Regions from separate parts of the Homo sapiens genome. Here region 2 is linked to region 1. The links come from fine-mapping of genetic effects on gene expression. A gene starts in region 1. The other region holds a variant in brackets. All regions are shown on one strand. Distances are from middle to middle.

Region 1 (8,834 bases):
AAAAAAAAAAAGAAAGAAACCAGCCTGGCCAACATGGTGAAACCCCGTCTCTACTAAAAATACAAAAATTAGGCAGGGCGTGGTGGTTCACGCCTATAATCCCAGAACTTTGGGAGGCCAAGCTGGGCGGATCTTCTGAGGTCAGGAGTTCAAGACCAGCCTGGCCAACATGGTGAAACCCCGTCTCCACTAAAAATAAAAAATTAACCAGGCATGGTGGTGCATGCCTGTAATCCCAGCTATTTGGGAGGCTGAGGCAGGAGAATCGCTTGAGCCTGGGAGGCGGAGGTTGCAGTGAACCAAGATCATGCCACTTCACTCCAGCCTGGGTGACAGAGTGAGACTCCGTCTCAAAAAAAAAAAGTTGGCCAGCCGTGGTGGTGAGCGTCTGTAGTCCCTGCTATTCGGGAGGCTGAGATAGGAGAATTGCTTGAACCTGGGAGGTGGAGGTTGCTATGAGCCACGATTGCGGACTGCACTGCAGCCTGGGTGACAGAGCGAGACTCCATCTCCAAAAAAAAAAAAAAAAAGAGAGAGAGAATAGGGGAAGACTAAGCAGGAAGGCTGTGTCTCCCTTCCCCACACTGTATTCCAACCAGACAGCTCCCTTCTATTTTATATGTTGGGCTAGTATGAAAAACAATTCTGCTAGGAAAAAAAAATTTTTTTAGAAGTTTGAAAGCTAGTGATTTGACCCAAGTTCCTCATTTTACAGCTGGGGAAACTAAGGCCTAGAGAGAGGCAAGTGATATTTGTTTCATGGCAGGGCTGGGCTGAGATCCTGCTTTTCTGGGTCTGTCTTTTTGCTCTTTTGGGTCTGATGCAGTTCTCAGCCCAAAGAGTAGAAATCTGTTGCTTCTGGCCTCAGCTGTGCCCCAGCTTACTCAGTGACCTCTTGCAAGTCCTGCCCTCTCTGGTCTCAGTTTCTTCATCTGAACCAGGGGTACCCTGGAACAAGCTGCTCTCTGCAGGATCTGCCACCTGAAACCTTGACCTAAGAGAAAACTACCTGTGGGGTGATCTGGGTTTGCTACAGAAACTAACGGACACTGGCAAGGGGTCAGAGGCATTCAACCCAATTCTACAACACAGGCAGGTGGTCAAAACCAACCTTTCCAACCAGAATCAGCCTGATATGGATAGATGCTGTCCCTTATGGAGGGACGCAGACTTCAGAACTGTGCCCATGACTGCTGACTGCCACCACCAAGGCCCTCAGGTACACAGCCTGCCTCCTGCAGGATGATGTGGGCAGATTTCAGCCCTAGTTAACAGAAGAGTCCCCCAGGAGGTAGGGGGCCCCCATCACTGGAGACATGCCAGCAGAGCCTCTGGCCACCTAACCAGGAGGTCTTCTGAAATGACTATACGAGGTAAAGAAGTAGTACCAGATGGTCCCAAAGTTCCCTTTTAGCCTGAAAGCTTTTCTTTGTCCCTCCTTAGTGAATCTGTGTTCCGAGCCCTACTCTAAAGTTCAGTGGTCAATACAATAGTCCACCAAGAGACTGGGAATGATTAGAAGTGAAATTGGTCCCTCCTTACCAAGGAGGGGCAGATGATCTCCATTGCACAGGGCGATTAGATTCTGGAGCTGAGGTGGGGACTGCAGGAGGCCACCTAGTCTGGTAGGTTTCAACCCAAGCTGTGTACATTAGAATTCCCTTGGGAGCGTGCAGGAAATACAGATGCCCATGCCACATTCCAGACCAACTGAAGCTGAATCTCCAGAGTAGGGCCTGTATGGTCATATAAGCTCCACAGGTGATCTGCAGTACAGTGAAGATGGAAGACTGCATGTGTACCTATTTGCAATAAAGATGAAGAGGACAGCAAGCTCCAGACAGGAGCTGGGACTCAACCCAGATCTCTTAAGTCCTGCCTGGTGGCTCCTTAAAAGTCCAGAAGTGTTGCCCCAAGCCCTCCCTCAACATCTCTGGGAACCGCAGCTGCAGCACGATGGGGGTTCAGTGCCCCTGTTTGCCCCTTACCCAGCTGTGGTTTATTCTGCTTGTATGTCTGCACAGGCCGGATGCTCGTGTTCCTTGTCTTATTCTCCATTTACTCAGTCACTGGGGCTCACTCCCGTCTGATGCACTAGCCAAGATTGCCTTAGTGTGCTCCAGAAAAGAAGGCCAAATCCCAGGCATTGTCAGGGCAGCAGAGCTCTACAGGATAGGCTTACCTTTCCCACCTGTGTGGCTAGCACTTCACAGTTTACAAATTCCTCCCACCTCCACTCAGTGACACATGCTGTTCTAACACAGGTCAGGCAGGCATTACAGTCCCCATGTTCAGAATCAAAGACCTAGCCTCAGAGAAGTGAAGAAACATCATGCCAAGGTCATTGACTGCCAAGCGGTAGAGGTGGGGTTGCATCCAGAGAGCTTCCCGGTATGCCTCTGCACAATGCCATTCCTTGGCCAGCTCCCTCCACCCCAAGGGACCCAGACTGCACACTTAACAAACAGGACACAGGTGTCTTTGAACAAACTTTTTTGTATTATTATTTTTACATCTAGAATAAATTATTTAAATTATTTCACAGCAAGGGAGAGGGATAGGTAATTTTTATCAGATATTTTTTTAAACCATCTGTTTTTTAAATTACATTTTTGTTTATGTTCTTGAGCTGATGTAGTGGAACTTGCCTAGCACATTCAGGTCCCAGCCAGTTGGCAGAGCATGCTCTCATCTCCTTATTCCATACCCTGGGCGTCCCCTTTCTGTTGACTCAGGAACTTTCTGAGAATGAGGACAGCACTAGGAGATGAGCTTTGGCAGGTATCCACCTTAACGCTACAATAATTGTGCTTCCTGAAACAAAACTTGAGATTGTATCATAGAAGGAAACAGGAAGTCAGAAATCAAATCTATGCTTTTAATTGAAACCGTGCCTGAAACAGTTTGAATGATTGTTTTAATGTTGTTTCTGAAATTCCTTGTACCTTTGTGAAAAATAATGATAATAAATAAAAGTGAAAATAAATAGATGTGGAATATGCAATGGAAATAATGTAACAAAATAATAAACATCTGGCCATTTTACTACAAGGAGCTTTCCTTTTCTTGATTTGTTCCACAAATACCAATTAACTATCTACTCTTGGAGTCAGACACCAAGCTGGAAAACAGGCAGAACAGACAGTCTTTGCCCTCTCCAGTTTTCAGTCATGGCTGCGGGAATGGGGAGGGCCAGGATAGGGAAAGCATAGGCTGTTCTGGAAGGAGAAGGAGGGAAGGCTTCCTGGAGGAAAAGATAGTAAGGTAGAAACCTGCAGAGTAAGTTGGAATACTCAGGGCAAAGGGCATTTGGGAAGAAGAATGTTCCAAGCAGGGTAAACTGCACGTCCCCCAGTCTTGAAAAAGCACAGGGTGGAGCATAGGCAGGGCGGAGACCAAGGATCTTAAGAAAGAGCTGAGGGCTTTATAAGTGGAAGTCTAGACTTGAGCCTGGGGGGGCAACTGGAATTTGGGGTGGTGGTGTGTGTGTGAAAGTTGTCAGTACCAAAACAGAGTCACTTACATCAAAACCAAACTAAATGGTGCTCCTGTAGTCCCAGCTACTCCAGAGATGAGGTGGGAAGATCACTTGAGCCCAGGAGTTAGAGGCTGCAGTGAGCTATGATCGCACTATTGCACTCCAGCCTGGGCAACAGAGCGAGATCCTGTCTCAAACAAACTAAATGGTGCTGGGAGGCCATGAAGTGGGGGGCCCTCATCAACGATTTGCCTGGTAACAGGAACTATTATTGCAAAAGATTCCACCAAACTGCAACCTTGCACAAAGAACCACAACCTTGCACAAAAGCCATGATATGAGGACATCTGCCCAGCAACTGCCTGTTCAACTTTTGGACTGAAGCCACCTGTATTAATTCTTGTAACCAAGTATTATTATTTTAAAACGATCTGGCCGGGCGCGGTGGATCACGCCTGTAATCCCAGCACTTTGGGAGGCCGAGGCGGGCAGATCACGGGGTCAGGAGATCGAGACCATCCTGGCTAAAACAGTGAAACCCCTTTTCTACTAAAAATACAAAAAATTAGCCGGGCGTGGTGGCGGGCGCCTGTAGTTCCAGCTACTCGGGAGGCTGAAGCAGGAGAATGGCGTGAACCCGGGAGGCGGAGCTTGCAGTGAGCAGAGATGGCGCCACTGCACTCCAGCCTGGGCGACAGACCGAGACTCCGTCTCCAAAAAAAAAAAAAAAAAAAAAAAACAAAAACAAACAAACAAACAAAAAAAACAGTATATGCAATCCTCCTCGTTTTGCCTTTAAAAGCCTCTGCTTTCCTTTGCCTCCCTGAGTACTCCGCGTCCCCACCCCTTGGGTGCCATGGCACATTTATTCCCGAATTGCAATCCTTCTGCTCAGTCCGAAATAAACTCAATTGGAGAATCTCTGTGTCCTTATTTGAGGTTGATGAAGGTATCTTACAGTTGTGGGAATGATTATCTTTCCGGGGAAAAGGGCAAGAGAGGATCAAGGGAAAGTGAGAGGAGCACCCCCGGAAGGTCACAGCCAACTTTGGTCCCATCATCAGGGCTGCAGTTTTCTGGGCGTTACTGGAACAGCGTCATTAAGCAGGAAGCCCACCCTCTCCTAGCTGGCTCATTAGGAGCTTCCCATTTCTGGTGGGACCACCTCCCGGCCTGGGCGGGCAGAGGGAGCACCCTGCTGGTCGGAGGATGCTCCGAGGCCCGACGCTGCTCCCGGCGGGCTGTCATCCTCCTAGGGGTCGGCCGGCCGGCCTGGAGCCGCCCCGCCCACGGCCGAGGTTTCGGTTTCCCTTGGGAGCCCCGCCCTGTGTCCCGGGGAGCCGGAGGAGGTGGAGATGAATGGCGGGCGCGGCGACCGGGAGCCGGACCCCTGGGAGGTCGGAGCTTGTCGAGGGATGCGGCTGGCGCTGCCCGGAGCATGGCGACCGCGTGGCTGAGCTCTTCTGTCGCCGCTGCCGCCGCTGCGTGTGCGCGCTTTGCCCGGTGCTGGGCGCGCACCGTGGCCACCCTGTGGGCCTGGCGCTGGAGGCAGCGGTGCACGTGCAGGTGGGGACGATGGGGACGGGGTTCGCCGCGCGGGAGTTGGGGGAGCCAGCCCAGGCATAACGGCCGAGGAGGGGGCGTGCCTGGCCGTGGCCAGTGGCGGGTTACAACCTGGAAACCAAAGGTGCCCCAGAGGGCGTCTAAGCGGTCGACCGAAAGTTCAGAGCGGGAGCCTGAGACCCAAGGAAGGGCAAAGGCGAGCCAAAGCCATCAGTTGAGCTTCAGAAAAGGTGGGTTTAGGAGTGAGAGGTTGGGAGCCCAGGCTGGTACCCAGATGTCCTTGACCGTGTCCACCATGGCCGATCCGCCACACTGCCATTGGGCTGGAAGACAGTCTGCCTTTTAGTTAACAGAGGTACAAACTCTCCCTCTTAATAAACAGCCCTGTGTAGCTCAGAAAGCCACACAGACATCTCAGGTTTACTTAATCTGCAGTCCACAGAAAGGGCCTGTGAACTTTGAGCTGAGGACGGCCTGACTGCCCTGGGAGCAGCCTCAGCTGTCACTACCTACCTCCTCTCCCCTCCCCGGCCACACAGACACTCCCATTCCTGCTCATAGCAGCCCTGGGTGAGCCATTATTATTACAGCCATTTTATAGGCCACAAGAGGAAGGCTCTGGAGGCAGGGGCAGGCCTTGAACCCAGGACTCCATTAGCCAGATGCCCCCAACAGGGCCATTGTCACCGTGGAACCCTTACCCATGCATAATCCTAACAGTGCCCCAGGGGCTCTGGGCTCCTGCTCCAGCTTCCCAGCTGACTTTTTCTGTGGCTTCTCTCAAATCCTTCTCTCTCTCTGGGTTTCATGAAGCCTGGGTGAGGTAGGCCCTCATGTCTGACAGCTGTTGATCCTACCACTTGTCTCCAAGAAGTCTTCTGTGATGAATTCAGCCCCATCGTGAGCCTTTCTCCGGTACTGCATGACTCCAGACCACCACACTGTGACAACCTTGGAACTCCAAGGTGAAAAGGGGATCATGGGGGACAATCCAGTGGAGTCGTGGGCTCAAGACCTGTCCCTGCCACCAGACCCTTCCTTTTTTTAACGTATGAAATGGCTGTAATTATAATAATGGCTCCTTGAAAAACTGTTATTCAGAATTAACAAGGCTGCTTTCCACAGATCTGGCTCAAGAGTCTCACCCATCCATTTGTCCATCCCCCTACCCACTACCTACTGTCAACTTGAAGTAATAAGATTCAGAAAATATGATTAAGTACAGAGTTTATCCAAGCCTAAAGCTTGAGGATGGCCAACTGGGACCATAGATTCAAATTTCTGTGACTATCCACTCTGATTAGCAGCAGTTACATATAAGTTTTTAAGGAAAAAAGAAGAAGCAGTTCCTAAATTGTTTACCAAGAATTTACATTAAAATGACATAAGCAGTCGGGCACAGTGGCTCATGCCTGTAATCCCAGCACTTTGGGAGGCTGAGGCAGGAGGATCACATGAGGCCAAGGGTTTGAGGCCTGGCCAACATGGGGAAACCCCGTCTCTATTAAAAAATATGAAAATCAGCCAGGTGTGGTGGTACACATCTGTAATCCCAGCTACTCAGGAGGCTGAGGCATGAGAATCGCTTGAACCTGGGAGATGGAGGTTGCAATGAGCCGAGATCACGCCACCGCACTCCAGCCTGGATGACAGAGTGAGACTTTGTCTTAAATAAATAAATAAATAAATAAATAAATAAATAAATAAAACAGAGAATCTCTATGGCAGAACAACACCAAACCTATTCCACTGGGGAGTCAACTAAAAACATCACGAAGAAAATCCCAAGCCTTCTTTAAAAGCCAGGAATTGGCTTCTAAAACTTTTTCTACAACCTTCCTTGTTGTAGCCAGGAAATAATTCAGGATTTAGTCCAAATTGCAGGAAAATAAAAACTAAAAAACAATGGCCAGGGCTGGAATCTAATAACAGGAATAACAGGTGTGCATAACAGGTGTGCTAAGATTTTCTTCTGAAACATAATTTTTCTCTCTCTAGTTCCCTGTTTTTACCAAAAATGAGTCTTGATAGGACAAATTTACTTGCAAAGTAAGTTTTAATATTACACTTGGCCTGATAATTTGCATTATTGGAACTTTCATAAGGAATTTTGGATTTGACTTTTTTTTTTTTTTTTTTGAGACACAGGGTCTCACTCTGTCACCCAGACTAGAGTGCAATGGCATGATCGTGGCTCACTGCAACCTCCACCTCCCAGGGTCAAGCAATCCTCCTACCTTGGCCTCCCAAGTAGCTGGGACTATAGGTATGCACCACCACACCTGGCTAATTTTTTTTTTGTATTTTTTTTGTAGAGACGGGGTTTCACCATGTTGTCCAGGCTGGTCTAGAATTCCTGGGCTCAAGTGATCCTCTTGCCTCAGCCTTCCAAAGTGCTGGGATTATAGGCGTGAAACACCACGCCTGGCCTGGATTTGACTTTTAAAAGCCTTACAGCTAAAAAGCCAAACCAAGGATTCACCATCAGACTATGCCTGTGATACCCATACACATTGGGTGAATTATTCTCTTCTCAAGGTCCCAAAATATCTTGAGGTTCCTAGACCTGTCGGAAAGTGACATTCTTTTCTTACCACAAGGTCGGGAACCTTGTAAGGGAACTGTGTAGACAAGGACCAAGCTAGTCCAGTCTTTCCAAGGATTTTTTTTTTTTTTTTTTTTTGAGACAGGGTCTCACTCTGTTGCCCAGGCTGGAGTGTGGTGGTGCAATTTTGGCTCACTGCAGCCTCCACCTCCCAGGTTCAAGTGATTCTCCCACTTCAGCTTCCTGAGTAGCTGGAACTACAGGTGTGCACCACCACTCCTGGCTAATTTTTGTATTTGTTGGTAGAGATGTGGCTTCACCATGTTGGCCAGGGTGGTCTTGAAAACTCCGACCTCAAGTGAACTGCCCACCTCAGTGTCCCAAAGTGCTGGGCCCCCTTTTATTGTATTTTATTTTATTCTTGTTAACATTTTTTAATAGAGGCGGGGTCTCACTATGTTGCCCAGGCTGGTTTCAAACTCCTGGACTCAAGTGATCCACCTACCTCAGCCTCCCAAAGTGCTGGGATTACAGACCTGAGCCACCAAGCCTGGCCCCCAAGGGTCTTCTTATGGGCTCTGTAAACTTGACTTCAGTTCCTGAAAGCAGTCTGATCATATATGAAGATATATCATTTCAGTCAAAGCCTTGGTAAAATTACCAGTGTCTCCAATGTGGTCTGTTATGAAAGAAAACATACTCTTATTGAACTTATGCAAATAACTATATTGTCATAAAATAAGAATACTCACAAATAGCCAGGTGCGGTGGCTCACGCCTGTAAACCCAGCACTTTGGGAGGCTGTGGTGGGCGGATCAGTTGAGGTCAGGAGTTGGAGATCAGCCTGGCCAACATGGTGAAACCCCATCTTTACTAAAAATACAAAAATTGTGCTGGGCTCAGTGGCTCACGCCTGTAATCCTAGCACTTTGGGAGGCCAAAGTGGGTGGATCACGAGGTCAGAAGTTCGAGACCAGTATGACCAACATGGTGAAACCTATCTCTACTAAGAATGCAAAAATTAGCTGGGCATGGTGGTGGGCACCTGTAATCCCAGCTACTCGGGAGGCTGAGGCAGGAGAACTGCTTGAACCCCACGAGGCAGAGGTTGCAGTGAGCCAAGATTGTGCCACTGCACTCCAGCCTGGGCAACAGAGAAAGACTCCACCTCAGAAAGAAAAATTAGCCAAGCGTGGTGGCATGTACCTGTAGTCCCAGCTACTCAGGAGGCTGAGGCAGGAAAATCG
Region 2 (8,834 bases), 29 kb after region 1:
AGAGACGAATGCAAAGATCATCTCCCTACATCCTGTCTCTCCCACACTGAGGCCCTTGGCTGGGCGGTCAGGGGCTCCTGGGCCTGGTGCCCAACCCACCCTCACCACTTCACCTCCAACCCTTCCTGAGACTGAGACCTGCCCTTCTCCAGTCACACTGCCCTGCTTCTGCCCCTCAGATTGCTCCTGGGAGCCTGCCACATCTCAGCCTTGCTCTGGGCTCCCAGCTGGAATGACCAACTCTTCCTCCTTCTCTTCCTCTGGCTGGGGCCAAGGCCTGGCACCCCTTCGAGGCAGACTGGCACAGCTGCGCCCACCTGGGAAGCCCTTTCCTGCCAGCCCAGCCCTGACTCACTCTCTCCTTTAGCCATCTCCCCTCTCCCTTCCCGCTCCAGGGCCTGCCCATGTCCTGCTAGAGGGTGCTCATGAAGTGGATACATGGACCCCCCTCCTTGCCCCTTGTAAGCACGTGAAGGGCAGAAACCAGCTTTAGGTCCAACTCTGAGGTCCCCCCAGGGCCTGGCACAAAACATGTACTCAAAAATATCTGTTCTTTGATTCATTTATGCATTCATTCATTCATTCACCTCTGCTATCATGATTCATTCAGAACATTTATCAAGCCCCTCTTATATGCCAGGCATAGCAGGGCACAAAACAAAGCTCCTTCTCCTCTTTTGGTGCTCACAGTCTTCGTAGGGGAAGACAGACCGTACACAAACATGTCAGGTGACAGGAACTGCTATACTGCTATAAAGAATAATAAAGGCCGGGCGTGGTGGCTCACGCCTGTAATCCCAGCACTTTGGGAGGCCGAGGTGGGTGGATGATGAGGTCAGGAGTTTGAGACCAGCCTGGCCAACATGGTGAAACCCCATCTCTACTACAAATACAAAAATTAGCCAGGCATGGTGGCATGCACCTGTAATCCCAGCTACTCGGGAAGCTGAGGCAGGAGAATTGCTTGAACCCGGGAGGTGGAGGTTGCAGTGAGTTGAGATCATGCCACTGTACTTCAACCTGGGTGACAGAGCAAGACTCTGTCTCAAAAATAACAATAATAATAATAATAATAAACCAGGGCAGGATGGAAGACAGGAAAGTGACAAGGAGGAGGAGCTGTTTTATATAAGCAGTTGGGATGGCCTCTGAGAAGGGGACACTCAAGGTGGCCCAAAGGAAGCATTCATTCTGCAGGTTCTGTGGGTCTGAAGGGCCAGAGAGCACAGTGGTCATAGGCACGGCCTCTGGAGCTAGGCCTCCTGGGTTCCTATCCGAGGTCTACCACTTGGAACCCTGCTGAACCCTGCCATCTTAGACACGGCTCCTCCCTTTTCCATGCCTCTGTTTCTGCATCTGTAAAGTGGAGACCATAATGCAGTCGCCTCTCCTGGGCTGCTGTGAGGATTAAATGAGCTCTTACACATATAGCGCTCAGGCATATTAAGCACCACGTATGTCTTGGCGATTATGATTGCTGCTGCTGTTACGTCTGGGGGAGGTATTCTAGACAGAGGGAAAAGCAAGGGTGGAGGTCCTGAGGCGCGATGGGAGTGAGCTGGCCATATCGAAGGAGCAGCAATGGGGACAACAGGAGTGGACGTAGGGTCACAGGGGAGAGAGGAAAGAGATCAGAATCCAAGGATTTGGACGTGGGCAACTCGCAGAAGGAAACTGTCATTTTCTGAAGTGAGAAAGAGTATTTAGGACTGGAGGGAATGAAGTGAACCTGTTAGATTTGAGAAGTTGGACTTCCCATGTGGTGGTATCGCCTCGGCAGTAGGACCTATGATTCTAGAGTTCTGGGGAGAGGGGAGAGGCTTTTGCCTTGATGAAAGAACAACTTCAGCCAAATTAAATTTAAAGGAGTTTAAATGAGCAATGAACGATTCATGAATCCGGCAGCCCTCTGAGCCACAGTGCACTCAGAGACTCCAGCACAGCCACGTGGTGGAAGAAGATTTAGGGACAGAAAAAGGAAAGCGACGTACAGAAAACAGAAGTGAGGTACAGAAGCAGCTGGATTGGTTACAGCTCGGCGTTCGCCTAATTTGAACACAATTTGAACAGTTGGCTACATCTGATTGGCCAAAACTTGGTGATTGGCACAAGTGCAGGCTACGGTCTGTTTACACCTCCACTTGTTATTGTTCATGACGTACAGAAAAATATGTAGGCCGAACTTAAAAGATGTAAGGAGGAGCTTTAGGCAAAACTTGATTTAAACAGCCTGCAGGTGGGCTTCCCACAGATCTCTACAGGCCCCTGTGATGAGTGCTGGGAGTGATGGGGGCGGAAGGCACTTCTGCGGAGGTGCTGAGTGAGCTGCGGCCCCAATAGCTGGGAAGGAGGCAACCTGGGCAAGGGGGGAAGGGTGTGGGGGGGCTGTCCAGGCAGAGGGCACAGCAAGTGCCAAGGGCCCTGGGTGCCCCTGCTGTGCCCGCTTGTTGGGATAGACTCCCCTCCTTCTTTCTTTCTGAGCACTCAGACCTTCCTGAGGACTCAGCTCTACTTTCTTGTTTTCCATCTTTACCCTGGAATCTGCACATCTTCCCTGAGTCGCCGCCCATCCTTGAGTGTTGGATCCAGTAGTTGTTCGCGCCTCAGCTCCTCCTCCTATTTAGGACTCTCCCACACCAGCCTTGTCATCCTGGGGTTTTCCTGTCCCTGTGAATTCACATAAATCCCTTAAATCTGCCTGGCTCTTGGGCGAGATTATGCGAATCTCCAGTTGTGTGGTATTTTTAGCACGTCTTATTTGTCTGCTTGCATAAGCTCCGGGCGCTCATTTCTCAACAATTCCTTACAGGCATAAACTGCCAGCTCTCAGACCCTTCCAGCACCAAGCCAGGTACCTTGTTGAAAACCAGCCCCTCACCAGAGCGATCGCTATTGCTGAAATGTAAGACCCCCGGGAGTGGGGATAGGGTGGAGACGGTGGAGATGGTGGGATGTTGGGTGGAGGAGGATCATGGAAATGGAGGTCCCTCTTTTTTTCTCATTAGAATTTATTTATTTATTTATTTTAAGAACTTGTTTTTTAAAAAATGTTTATTATTAAAGGCAATAAAACAATACATGTTCATTGTAGAAAAATTAGAAAATGAAAGAAAAAAGTTACTCATAATCCCTCTTCTGTGAATAACTGCTATTATTATTTGTCCTTTTAGCTTTTTTAGCACATCTAATATGCATATAATGATATATTTAATATATCTTTTTATGTTACAAACGTGGTGTCATACTATACATACTGTTTTGTCATCTGTTTTCATTTACTGATATATTATGAACATATATATATTTGGGATTTATACAGTGAGCCACTGTGCCCAGCTAATATTATCACTATGTGTGTGTGTGTGTGTGACCGAGTCTTGCTCTGGAGTGCAGTGGTGCAGTCATGGCTCACTGCAGCCTCGACCTCTTGGGCACAAATGATTTTCCCACCTCAGCCTCCCTCATAGCTGGGACTATCAGTGTGTGCCACCATGCCCAGCTAATTTTTTATTTTTATCATTGTTTTTAGAGGTTGCATGGCATTGCATTGAATGGATGTGTCATATTTAGCCAATCTCATAATGTTGGATGTTTACATTTTCATTTCTAAAACAATGCTGTAATAAACATCCATTCTTGTACACATTTGTTGAATTGAATTAATGAATGAGAGAATGAACACACCATACCTCATTTTCAGATTATTTTTTAGGAGTAATTTCTCAAGTGGAATTACTGGGTGTCAACCTAAAAAAGACTCAATCTAAAGAAGGCTCAGTATCCAGTTAGCAGAGTTTATTCAAGTGCAAAGTAACCATCAGGAGACAGAGGGAAACCAAAGAATGGTGATCACTGCCCCTGGTGTTGGGAGGGGGACAGTGAATATCAAAACAGAGGCACTGAATAAATTTACATTTTCCATACAAAGGCTAACATACTGATTTAAAGGCCGAGCACGGTGGCTCACACCTGTAATCCCAGCACTTTGGGAACCCAAGGCAGGTGGATCACTTGAGGTCAGCAGTTCGAGACCAGCCTGCACAACATGGTGAAACCCTGTCTCCACTAAAAATACAAAAATTAGCTGGGCATGGTGGCATGCACCAGTAGTCCTAGCTGCTCAGGAGACTGAGGCAGGAGAATCGCTTGAACCCGGGAGGCGAAGGTTGCAGTGAGCCGAGGTCGCACTACTGCACTCCAGCCTGGCAACAGAGCAAGACTCCGTCTTAAAAAAAAAAAAAAAAAAAAAAGTGCACAAATCAAAAATGTGCAGATCAATCAGCTCAATGATTTTTTAAAAAGGAAACATATTTTGTAACCACCTTCAGATCAAGAAATGGAAATTTCCACTCCCCAGAAGTCTTCCTCATGTGCCTTCTTGTTTACTATCCCCAAAGGGGATCCACTCTCCAGACTTCTAGGACTATAGGTTAGTTTTACCTGTTTTTGAACTTTCAGTAGATCATTCACACTATACCCTTCTGTGTTTTGCTTCTTTCACTCAATATGAGATTTATCCATTTTTGTATATTGACATACTGAGTGGCTGTTATAAATTCACTTAGTACTTCTAAGCTATCTACAGATTATTTGGGTTTTTGTGTAAATAAGCATGTCACCTATGAATAATAATCTTTCATTTCCCCGATCTTTATTCTTTCCTTTCACTTCTTTTTCGTGCCTTGAGTTACTGTCTACTACATTTAGAACATTGTTGAATAGAAGTGGTTATAATGAGCAGCATTTTCTCCCACCTTAGACATATATCCAACAGAAATGCATACATATGTGAATCAAAAGACCTGCACAAGAATGTTATGTGACCGAAACACAGGTTCAGTTGCTCAACGCTTTGCAGAGTTCAATTAACAAGAGCGAGGTCTGGTATAAAGAAAGTGGTTTTATTCTAAAGATTAGCTTAGGGGAAGAGGTACAGGCTCCTCCTGCCCTTAACGGTACCGCCTCACTTTTGGGGCAGAAAGCAGAGGCTTTTAAATGGGGACTTTGTATGAATGGCATGCAGGGAAGGAGCAAGCAGATGGGGGTCTATATGACTCATTTTGATGCGTTTTCTACCAAGTGGTTGAGCTGGTGCCATTGAGGGCAGAACTAGGTTGTAATGTGGCCGTTGTCTTGAGATGCTGTCCGGGTGGAAGAGTTCTGTTGAAGGCATACTTTATGTTGTAAATTGACTGTTGTCTCTTAAGGCAATCTCCTGGTGGGAGAAAGTTCTGGTTCTAGACCCTCTAAGTAGGTAGATAAGTTTGCCCTGTAGGGACTATCTGGTGAAGGGAAGGTAATGGTTATAATTACATTTCTAAAGAGCTAAGTAGAGGCAGGGCACAGTGGCTCACACCTGTAACCACAGCA[C/T]TTTGGGAGGCTGAGGCAGGCGGATCACCGGAGGTCAGGAGATCAAGACCAGCCTGGCCAACATGATGAAACCCTGTCTCTACTGAAAATACAAAAATTAGCCAGGCGTGGTGGCAGGTGCCTGTAATCCTAGTTACTAGGGAGCCTTAGGTAGGAGAATCGCTTGAACCCAGGAGGCCGAGGTTGCAGTGAGTCGAGATCACACCACTGCACTCCAGCCCGGGCAACAAGAGTGAAACTCCATCTTAAAAAAAATAAAAATAAAGAGCTAAGTAGGAAGTGGGAGACAGGAGAAAAAGGGGGAAAATCTTAAAAATAATTCATTCTCTTTCTCTTAGAAAAATGCTCTTTTTCTTAGAAAACTCAGTCTCTGTTACACGTTTACAGTTATAGCAACATTAGTCACAATAGGCAACACGGAAACAATCCAAATGTCCATGGAAAACTGTTTGGCCTTGTTTATGAAAGCTGAATATCCACATACCCTGTGATCCAGACTTAAAAAACAACAACAACAACAACAAAAAAAACTTCATGTGTACATACATGGTGTAATGCAAAGAGAAATGTTAATGAGAGTTTAAATCACTACAAACTTTGGGGAGGATAGTTTTGCAATATGTATCAAAGACCTTAAAAAAATACCCATTGACCCAGCAATTCCTGTTTTAGGAGTATATTCTACAGAAGCAATCAGATACGTAAAAATGTAATTGTATTAGTGGTTTCAAAAGCTTTTTAAACGGAGGACTAAGTTATGCGTCCAAACATCAAAATTTTAGAATCTCCACTAAAATGCTCTTGTGAAAGGATATTATGATGTGTCAAAATGCCTCACAAGTAGATCAATCAATTTTAAAAAGCAGATTACCTAACGTCATGTATGGTGTGACACCAATATTAAGAAAAGCTATAAAAATTAGCCGGGCGTGGTGGTGGGCGCCTGTAGTCCCAGCTACTCGGGAGGCTGAGGCAGGAGAATGGCCTGAACCTGGGAGGCGGAGCTTGCAGTGAGCGGAGATCGCGCCACTGCACTCCAGCCTGGGCAACAGAGCGAGACTCCGTTTCAAAAAAAGAAAAAAAAGAAAAAGAAAAGCTATAAAGCAGCAAGGGGAGGGGAAAGATAGGAAGTACACACACCCTAATGTTAACAGTGATAGGATTAGTTTTAATTAAATTTGTATTAATTGGCAACAAATTTCACGGCACAAAATACAGACAGTATAAGGGATGTGCAGCAGAGTGATCTCTTCTTCCCCTTTCCCCAAGACCCCGCCCCAGGGGCAGTCGCGGTTTAAAGGGGTCTGTCACCCCTTCCTTGGGCCATTTCCGCGCTTCGCATTTTGTGATTTGCACGTGCGTTGGTGGGTTCCCGGGGGCGGGGCGCCGCGCTGGCCCCGCCCACCAGGTGCGTCCCTTGTCTCGCCCCCTGCAGACGCGCGCACGCCCACGCTGGATCCTGACACGATGCACGCGCGCCTGCGCCTGTCCGCCGATCGCCTGACGGTGCGCTGCGGCCTGCTGGGCAGCCTGGGGCCCGTGCCCGTGCTGCGGTTCGACGCGCTCTGGCAAGTGCTGGCTCGTGACTGCTTCGCCACCGGCCGCCACTACTGGGAGGTTGACGTGCAGGAGGCGGGCGCCGGCTGGTGGGTGGGCGCGGCCTACGCCTCCCTTCGGCGCCGCGGGGCCTCGGCCGCCGCCCGCCTGGGCTGCAACCGCCAGTCCTGGTGCCTCAAGCGCTACGACCTTGAGTACTGGGCCTTCCACGACGGCCAGCGCAGCCGCCTGCGGCCCCGCGACGACCTCGACCGGCTCGGCGTCTTCCTGGACTACGAGGCCGGCGTCCTCGCCTTCTACGACGTGACGGGCGGCATGAGCCACCTGCATACCTTCCGCGCCACGTTCCAGGAGCCGCTCTACCCGGCCCTGCGGCTCTGGGAGGGGGCCATCAGCATCCCCCGGCTGCCCTAGGGGCCAGGACCGGCGTGACAGCCTCCAGGTACGCCGCAGCTGCCCAGTCTCGCCTAATCTACCTAGATCAGCGTGGCTGGTCCCCTTACTGCCTGCTTCTTAGGGCCCTCTCCCTGCCCCAGCTTTCCCCGACCAATCACGCCTACAGTGCTTTGAAGGTTTCCTCTCCTAGGCTAGTTTCAAACAGGCCCTAAACAAGTCTGCTGCTGCCCTCTCATCAGACCTCCGCACCCTCACCCCACCATCACTTACACTACTTTAATCCAGTTCCTTCAAAGTGATACCCCCACAGGTAAGCCCTCAGCATCCTGAATACATCATCCGCAGCCTGGGAACCTTCTCCCTCGTACAGCACAGGAACCTGACACATAGTAGGCACACAGTAAACGTTTGTGAATGAATGGGAGTCATCCAGTCCTGACTCTTCTGTCTCTTGAGGTCCCTTGAATCTTCCGCTTCCTCCCCACCGATTTCAGCGTGTCCACATCACAGCTCCCTCCAGAAGCTGCAAGAGCTTCTTAGCAGTTCCTGGTCTGAACCCTCTCCCAGTCCTCATCTTCCACCCTAAAACTAGAGTGATCTTCCTAAAACTTCACTTAACCCCTCAGCTATGAAAAGGCTTCCAGGAGTTTCCATGAAATAACAAAAAAAAATACAAGCGCCTCACCTTAGCATTCAAGGCTTGTCTAGTCTGCCCAAAATTACTTATCCTCACCTAGCTCCTACCACTCTTCTTAGAGACTCTCCAGTCAGAAATGTGTCGCATAGTTCCACCTCCACACCTCTCTGCTGCCAGCACATTCATGCAGAAAAGTCTTTTCACCTGTCTCAGTCTTCCGCAGGCTTACCTGCGCCAGGAAGTCTAACCAAGGAACAAGAATCTCACTATCAGAGCCACAAATCTGGGACCTGTCTTTCCAACTAAATTGGAGGCTTTGGAAGGGCAGCTTTGTCCTATACTCTCTCCACCCTGAAAAGTTCCCAGAAAGCCCCTTCCCTCCCAAGCAGTGAATTAATAACCAGCAGGTGCCTATCACTGAGTAACAGAAGAGCTGAGTTAGGCGGGCCTCACAGGTCACCCAGCCAGATCTCATCTGGGGAGTCTGAGGTCCTGAAAGAAAGCAGAGCTGCGTAAAGTTACCCCGGGGTGATATAGGGGGGCCAGACGTGTGCCCCGTTCACCCACCCCCAGGCAAGCATCTGACCTGTCCCCTGGCCCAGCCCTTAGGCCCAGCTTTCAACCTGCTTACTCATTTCTCAGGGGATTTTGGGAAGGAATCAGCAGGTGACAGTTGCTAAGCAACCAAAGGGGGTGGTGTTTCCCAACTGTCTTGGGACAAAAAGGGTAAGAGCACCCTTAGATCCAGATGTTGCCAAGGAAACCCAGAGTGCCCAGCTGTCTGGAATGAAGTGACAGAGGTAGAAAACAGTAGGCCCTCACAGGAGGCCACCTTCGCTAGCAGGGAGTGGGAGGCTTCTTTCCAGGGATTTGT

The links.
Region 2: its variant is fine-mapped to the expression of TRIM14 in tibial nerve (GTEx, PIP 0.96).

Annotation. Positions count from the first base shown.
Region 1 is chr9:98,115,192-98,124,025 of GRCh38, reverse strand. It overlaps TRIM14 (tripartite motif containing 14), which reads left to right and starts at 4,804. Exons shown (of 6, transcript NM_014788.4): 1 at 4,804-5,044. The coding sequence starts at 4,838. CORO2A (coronin 2A) reads left to right here. Exons shown (of 12, transcript NM_052820.4): 12 at 1-3,051. RefSeq lists a silencer at 4,871-4,970 and an enhancer at 5,281-5,330.
Region 2 is chr9:98,085,977-98,094,810 of GRCh38, reverse strand. TRIM14 (tripartite motif containing 14) reads left to right here. Exons shown (of 6, transcript NM_014788.4): 5 at 2,810-2,902; 6 at 6,806-8,834. The coding sequence ends at 7,341. Among named protein-coding and RNA genes, the nearest start is that of TRIM14, 29 kb to the left of the region's middle. RefSeq lists enhancers at 3,600-4,159, 6,530-7,203, 7,204-7,878 and a silencer at 6,851-7,120. The variant C/T (reference allele first, on the strand shown) is at 5,371.